Linked DNA regions of Homo sapiens. The protein of the gene in region 1 purifies or fractionates together with the protein of each later gene. This does not show direct contact. Each region holds a gene or a part of one and is shown in the gene's direction. Other genes may lie near its edges.

Evidence for each region. The genes of interacting proteins can lie anywhere in the genome.
Region 2: the proteins of FCRL2 (region 1) and F3 purify together in Homo sapiens (affinity purification with mass spectrometry; one large-scale study listed by BioGRID and IntAct). This does not show direct contact.

The regions. Positions count from the first base shown.
Region 1 is NC_000001.11:157,760,133-157,763,632, reverse strand, and holds part of FCRL2 (Fc receptor-like protein 2 isoform 1 precursor), read left to right. Parts: intron 1-3,500. UniProt on the Homo sapiens protein: May have an regulatory role in normal and neoplastic B cell development.
Region 2 is NC_000001.11:94,531,760-94,535,259, reverse strand, and holds part of F3 (tissue factor isoform 1 precursor), read left to right. Parts: intron 1-1,991; coding exon 1,992-2,170; intron 2,171-2,779; coding exon 2,780-2,939; intron 2,940-3,500. UniProt on the Homo sapiens protein: Initiates blood coagulation by forming a complex with circulating factor VII or VIIa. The [TF:VIIa] complex activates factors IX or X by specific limited proteolysis.

The DNA.
Region 1 (3,500 bases):
TTACAGGTAAAGTACGTTTCTTACAGGTAACACAGAGTTGGGCAACATTTTTAATACCCATTCAGCGAGTCTATAAATATATCTTTTCTTTGTTTGTTTGTTTTTTGAGATGGAGTTTTCACTCTTGTCACCCAGGCTGGAGCACAATGGTGTGTTCTTGGCTCCCTGCAAATTCCACCTCTCGGGTTCAAGAGATTCTCTTGCCTCAGCCTCCTGAGTAGCTGGGATTACAGGCACCCGCCACCATGCCTGGCTAATTTATTTGTATTTTTAGTAGAGATGGGGTTTCACCATGTTGGCCAGGCTAGTCTCAAACTCGTGACCTCAAATGACCCTCCTGCCCCGGCCTCCCAAAGTGCTGGGATTACAGGCATGAGCCACGGCACCCCATCTATATATTTTAAGTAAAGAATTTAATCAATTTACATTCAAGGTTATTACTGATATGTGAAGTTTTCTTCCTGTCATATTGTTAATTGTTGTCTAGTTGTTTTGTGTATTCCTTGTTGTTTTTTCTCTTAGTGTGTATTTTCTACGTCTAACAATCTTGGGGAATTTAAGTGGTTTGCAATGCTTACTCGGCCAGTACCTGACGACCAAGCCTCAAACCTAACTTTATTGCACCTCCTGGCTTTACCTATGCATTTTCATGATGGTAAGTATTGTCCTTTCGCTTTCAGGCTTAGGACTCCCTTGAGCATTTCTTACAGGGCTGGGCTAGTGGTGATGAACTGTATCAGCTTTTGCTTATCTGGAAAAGATTTTATTTCTCCTTATTTATGAAGGATATTTTGCTGGATTTAGTTTCCTTCACTGGCACTTTATTTATTTTAGCACTTTGAATATTTTATACCATTCTCTCTTGGCCTGGAAGGTTGGAGTGTATCTTTTGTTTTGTTTTGTTTTGTTTTTCTTTATAGGTGACTAGAGGCTTTTCCCTTGCCATTTAAAAAATTCTGTCTTTGTATTTGACTTTAGACTGTTTTATTATAATGTGCCATGGAAAAGACCTTTTTGCATTGTATGTGCTTGGGGATCTCAGAGGTTTTGTATCTGGATGTCCAAATCTCTTGCTAGACTTTGGAAGTTTTCATCTATTATTTTATTAAATAGGTTTTCTAACCTTTTCATTCTGTCTTTGCCATCTGGGACCCCAATAATTCGAATACTTTTCCAAAAGTATTCAAAAATGTGCCAATTCTTGGTCCTCCAAGTGACTTAATCACATACCCGAAGTGGCTATGCTGGGCCAGGCAGGTGAAAGGATTCTCAGGCCCCTGGGCAGCCAGCATGGTTTGGGCAATGGCAGTGGCAGTGGCAGGTCCACCCTCTGAGTCCCAAACAATGGATACTGGTGTTGGTAGTGGCTGTGATAGGCTGGGCAGGTCAGACTCCAGACCTGCAGATGGTGCATGCGGGTAGGTATCAGTTGTGGTGATAGTGGCAGAATTGGTAAGCCCAACCTCAGGTCCCCTGGAGGAGTGTTAGGTGCCGTCGTGGTGGACTGGGCTGGGCAATTCCCTGGTCTCCAGGCTGTGTGCTCTGGCATGGTCAGGGGAAGGGCAAAACCATGCTGGGTGGGCTTATCCTCATGCTCCCTGATCCTCTCTGCTCTCTTTTCTCAGCAATTCTTCACTATCTTCTTACCACTTCAATGTTTATAAACAGACTTTAAAACTCTTTTGCCCAGCCTTTCTAGTTGTCCTTAGTAGAAGATTGGTTCAAATGCATTCATTAACCATTACTGGAAGTTTGAAGACATCTACCTTTTACAACCAACATATTCCTTAAGCTGCCGTGTCTTTTGGCATTTTCAGCATGACTATATGTTTTTGTAATGTATTATTTCTAATTTGTCAAGAATTTAGACAAATCAGAGTGATTTGTCATACTGAGCCCTATTAATATTTCACAAGTCAAAAAAAATTACCAGTGACCCAATTATTGTGTCATCCACATATGGCAGGTTTACATATATTATCTGTAATTATCAAAAGTTATTTTTAAAAGTGTGCCTTTTGGGGGAGACAAGGTCTTGCTCTGTTGCCGAGGCTGGAGTGCAGTGACACGATCTTGGCTCACTGCAGTCTTGATCTGCCAGGCTCAAACCACCCTCTCACCTCAGTCTCCTGAGTAGCTGAAACTACAGGCCCATGTCACCATACCCAGCTAATTTTTTTGTAAAGATGGGGTTTTACAATGTTACCCAGGCTGGTCTCGAACTCCTGAGCTCAAGCGATCTGCCTGACTCAGCCTCCCAAAGTGATGAGATTACAGGCGTGAGCCACCACTCCCAGCCTAAGTGTCTGTTTTCTATGTCTAACAACCTTGGGGAATTTAAGTGGGTTTTTTTGTGCTCACTCAGCCAGTAAAGGGCAGACCAGAACCTGTATCTGCCTGACTACTATGCCTCAAACCTAACTTTGTTGCACCACCTGGCTTTACCTATTCTCCTCCCATAAGTTTCACCTATGTCAGTAAGGTGTTATTTATTTTAACCTATCAGATACAGGACAAACATGGGGCACATCAGAATCTCAATGATAGCTTTGAAGCTTTTGTAAAACGCTTTCTTACACTTATCTACTGCAACAGGTGAAATAAATTTTGGAACTCATTAATTTTCTTCCACATAGTAAACATTTAAGCTAGTATTTTATTTTATTTTTTACTTCCAACGTTTATTTTAGGTTCAAGAGGTACATGTGCAGGTTTGTTACATAGGTAAATTGGTTGTCTTGCAGGTTTGGTGTACAGATAATTTTGTCACCCAGGTAATCAGCATGATACCAAATAGGCAGCCCTTCCTTCCTTCCTTCCCTCCTTCCTTCCTTCCTTCCCTCCTTCCTTCCTTCCTTTCTTTTTTCATTCTTTCTTCTTTCTTTCTTTCTTTCTTTCTTTCTTTCTTTCTTTCTTTCTTTCTTTCTTTCTTTCCTTCTTTCTTTCTTTCTTTCCTTCCTTCCTTCCTTCCTTCCTTCTTTCTTTCTTTCTTTTCTTTCTTTCTTTTTGACAAAGTCTCACTCTGTCTCCCAGGTTGGAGTGCAATGAACAATCTTGGCTCACTGCAACTTCCACCTCCCGGGTTCAAGCGATTTTCTCGCCTCAGCCTCCTGGGTAGCTGAGATTACAGGTGCCTGCCATGACGCCCAGCTAATTTTTGTATTTTTTTTTTAGAAGAGATAGCATTTCACCATGTTGACCAGGCTAGTCTTGAACTCCTAGCCTCAAGTAATCCACCCGCCTCGGCCTCGCAAAGTGCTGGCATTACAGGAGTGAGTGAGCCACCACGCCTGGCCCCAATAGGTAGCTTTTCAATCCTCACTCTCTTCCCTCCCTCCACCCTCAAATAGGTCCCAGCATCTGTTGTACTCTTCTTTGTGTTCATATGCACTCAACGTTTAGCTCTCACATATCAGTGAGAACATGTGATATTTGGTTTTCTGTTCCTGTGTTAATTCACTTAGGATAATGGTCTCCAGCTCCATCCATGTTGCTGCAAA
Region 2 (3,500 bases), about 63 Mb from region 1:
ATTTAGATAAATGCATGTAGCACATTGAGTAGAGTGAAATTAGCTTCTCTTGTAAGGCCAGCTGGTTAGAATGAAGGTGTTGTGTGAGTGTTAGGCCCAGCGAGAGAGAACAGTTTCTCAAGGTAGGAATGGTGAAAAGAAGGGGTGGACGGACAACCAACCAACCATCCTCCTCTGGTATCTACTTTGAGGGTTGAAATAGGGGGCCTGACCCCAGGTGAATGTGGCTGCCTTCCCAGAGCCCCCATTTGCAAGACCCTCCAGACCCCCAGGTGCTTCTGCTTGTGTCTTTTGTGGCACCAGGCAAGAATGTAGCAGCGTCAGCAGCCCCTCTGGTGACTGTGGCATGGTTGACATTCATTTCCCCCCTAATTAATGGCATCCTCATGATTCTCTTTTATATTAATAGTTCTTGAGTTTTTTTGTAAGCTACTTCAAATCCTTTGTTGGTGCAAGATAGAAGATATTTTATGTGTTTGTTTTGCATGTGCACACACATATTTGGCCTGTGAATTGATGTTTGTTTTCCTGTCATTTAACCAAAGCACATGAGATAATTGAGCCATTGCAGAGACCCCGTGGTTAAATCCGGCTTCTCGAGGTACCAAGGACATTTCCTGGGCTTTCTCACAGCCCTACATATTTTTGAACCTAAAATATCGTAGTTTATGCTACCACCCTGTTCAGTATAGTAGCCACTAGCCACATGTGGCTGTTGACCACTTGAAATATGGCTAATGCTCTAAGTATAAAGTACACACTGGAATTTAAGAAGTGTAGAATATCTCAAAACTTTTTTATATTGATTACACATTAAAATGATTATATTCCAGATATATGCAGTTGACTCAAGCAATGCATGGCTGAGAGGCACCGACTCCCTGTGCAGTTGAAAATCCGAGTATAACTTGACTCCCCAAAAACTTAACTACTAATAGCCTACCTATCGGTTGACTGTTGACTGCAGCCTTACCAATAAGATAAACAGTCAATTAACACACATTTTTCATGTTGCGTGTATTATATACTGTATTCTTACAATAAAGTAAGCTAGAGGAAAGAAAATGTTATTAAGAAAATTATAAGGAAAAGAGGCTGGGCATGGTGGCTCGTGCCTGTAATCTCAGAACTTTGGGATGCTAAGGCGGGTGGATCACTTGAGGTCAGGAGTTCAAGACCAGCCTGGCCAACATGGTGAAACCCCATCTCTACTAAAAATACAAAAATTAGCCAGGCGTGGTTGTGGGTGCCTGTAATCCCAGCTACTTGGGAGGCTGAGGCAGGAGAATCACTTCAACCCAGGTGGAGGAGGTTGCAGTGAACTGAGATTGCGCCACTGCACTCCGGCCTGGGTGACAGAGCGAGACTCTGTCTAAAAAAGAAAGGGAAAGAAAGAAAAAAAAGAAAAGAAAAGAAAAGAAAGAAGGAAGGAAGAGAAAGAATTATAAGGAAGAGAAAATATATTTACTATTGATAAAGTGGAAGTGGATCATCATAAAGGTGTTCATCCTCGTCATCTTCATGTTGAGTAGGCTGAGGAGGAGGAGGAGGAGGAAGAGCAGGGGCCACGGCAGGAGAAAAGATGGAGGAAGTAGGAGGCGGCACACTTGGTGTAACTTTTATTTAAAAAAATTTGCATACAAGTGGATCCACAGAGTTCAAACCCATGTTGTTCAGGGGTCAACTGTCTTTGGTTAAATAAAATATATTATTAAAATTAATTTCACCTGTTCCTTTTTACTTTTTCTAATGTGACTACTAGAAAACTTAAAATGACATCTGAGGCTCCATTGTCTTCCCCTTGGGCCAGCACTACCACAGAATGTCTTAGGATTCAGCTCCAGGCCGCCACGCCTGCTTCTTTCAGGGAGCTGGTTCTATGCACATGTTTTATATGAGAGATAATTAAGTTGTCAATTGTGATAACAAAACAGGATTTGACTTTGTACAGAATTCTTTGGTTCCAACCAAGCTCATTTCCTTTGTTTCAGCAAACCTCGGACAGCCAACAATTCAGAGTTTTGAACAGGTGGGAACAAAAGTGAATGTGACCGTAGAAGATGAACGGACTTTAGTCAGAAGGAACAACACTTTCCTAAGCCTCCGGGATGTTTTTGGCAAGGACTTAATTTATACACTTTATTATTGGAAATCTTCAAGTTCAGGAAAGGTGAGCATTTTTTAATTTGTTTTTATGACCTGTTTTAAATTGTGAATACTTGGGTTTTACAACCCATTTCTTCCCCAATTCAAAAATAGCAGAACAGAGTTGTTGAGAAGGTGATGGAGTAGAAGGGGGAGCGCGCACTGTGGGGAGGGGTGGACAACAGGCCTGGTCCTACCTGTGACTCTGCACTACCCTGTGACTCTGGGCAGGGCCCCCTCGGAGACCCAGGTTCCTCAGCCAACCGGCTGGATCAGGTCATCTCTAAAGGTCCCGCCATGCTCACATTTCTCCCTCTATTGAGGATCCCAGGCACAAAATTTGTTTTTGGTTCAATGCATAATACTCCCTTCCTTTTTCTTTTACTGCAGATATCTTCTAAAGGGGCTCAATAGGGTTCAATATGCCTAAATTGGATCTTCTCAGTCTTGGAAAAGGCATTTTTAGCAGTGATCAAGGGAAACTGATTAGCGAAGTCACTTCTAATCCTTCACGTGTCAGCTGTGTTCTTGTAGGCTTTGCTTAGAACCTAGGTTTTTACTTCCACAGTGACTTAATAAAGGGGAAAGAATTGACTCAGAGCCCAGATGAATTAAGAACTCTATCTTTTTACAGAAAACAGCCAAAACAAACACTAATGAGTTTTTGATTGATGTGGATAAAGGAGAAAACTACTGTTTCAGTGTTCAAGCAGTGATTCCCTCCCGAACAGTTAACCGGAAGAGTACAGACAGCCCGGTAGAGTGTATGGGCCAGGAGAAAGGGGAATTCAGAGGTGAGTGGCTCTGCCAGCCATTTGCCTGGGGGTATGGGTGCTGTGGGTGACTTCTGGAGGAGTAGCTCCACCCTCAGGGCTGGGATATACTTCCTTGGTTAAATATTCAGGAAAACAAACTGCCTGGAGGTTTTTTGTTGTTATTTGTTTGTTTTGGTTTTGATTTTGCTTTGGTACAAAAAAGATTTTGGACATTTAGAAATGTTTCTGTGTTGATTGTGCCCTTGTATTAGCAGGTGTTTTCTTGAGCACCTGTCATGTGCTAAGCCCTCTGCTGAGCACTGGATACACAAACTGTGTTTAGGATTTAGCAACAAGTCACAGATTTCCCTGGGCATTTTTTCATGCTTAAATTCTAATTCTGGGGGTGGCTTCTGGACCAGCTGCAGCAGGACACAGTAGACATTCGTGAGTACCCACTGTGGGCTGTTGCCACAGAGGCTGTAGAGTCTAACCCATCAAGGGAAGGGATTGAGTATATCAAATATACCCACATGCATGCATGTGTGTATATGGCGGACACGTGTGTGTACATGCATGTGCATATGTTGGGAGCTCAGG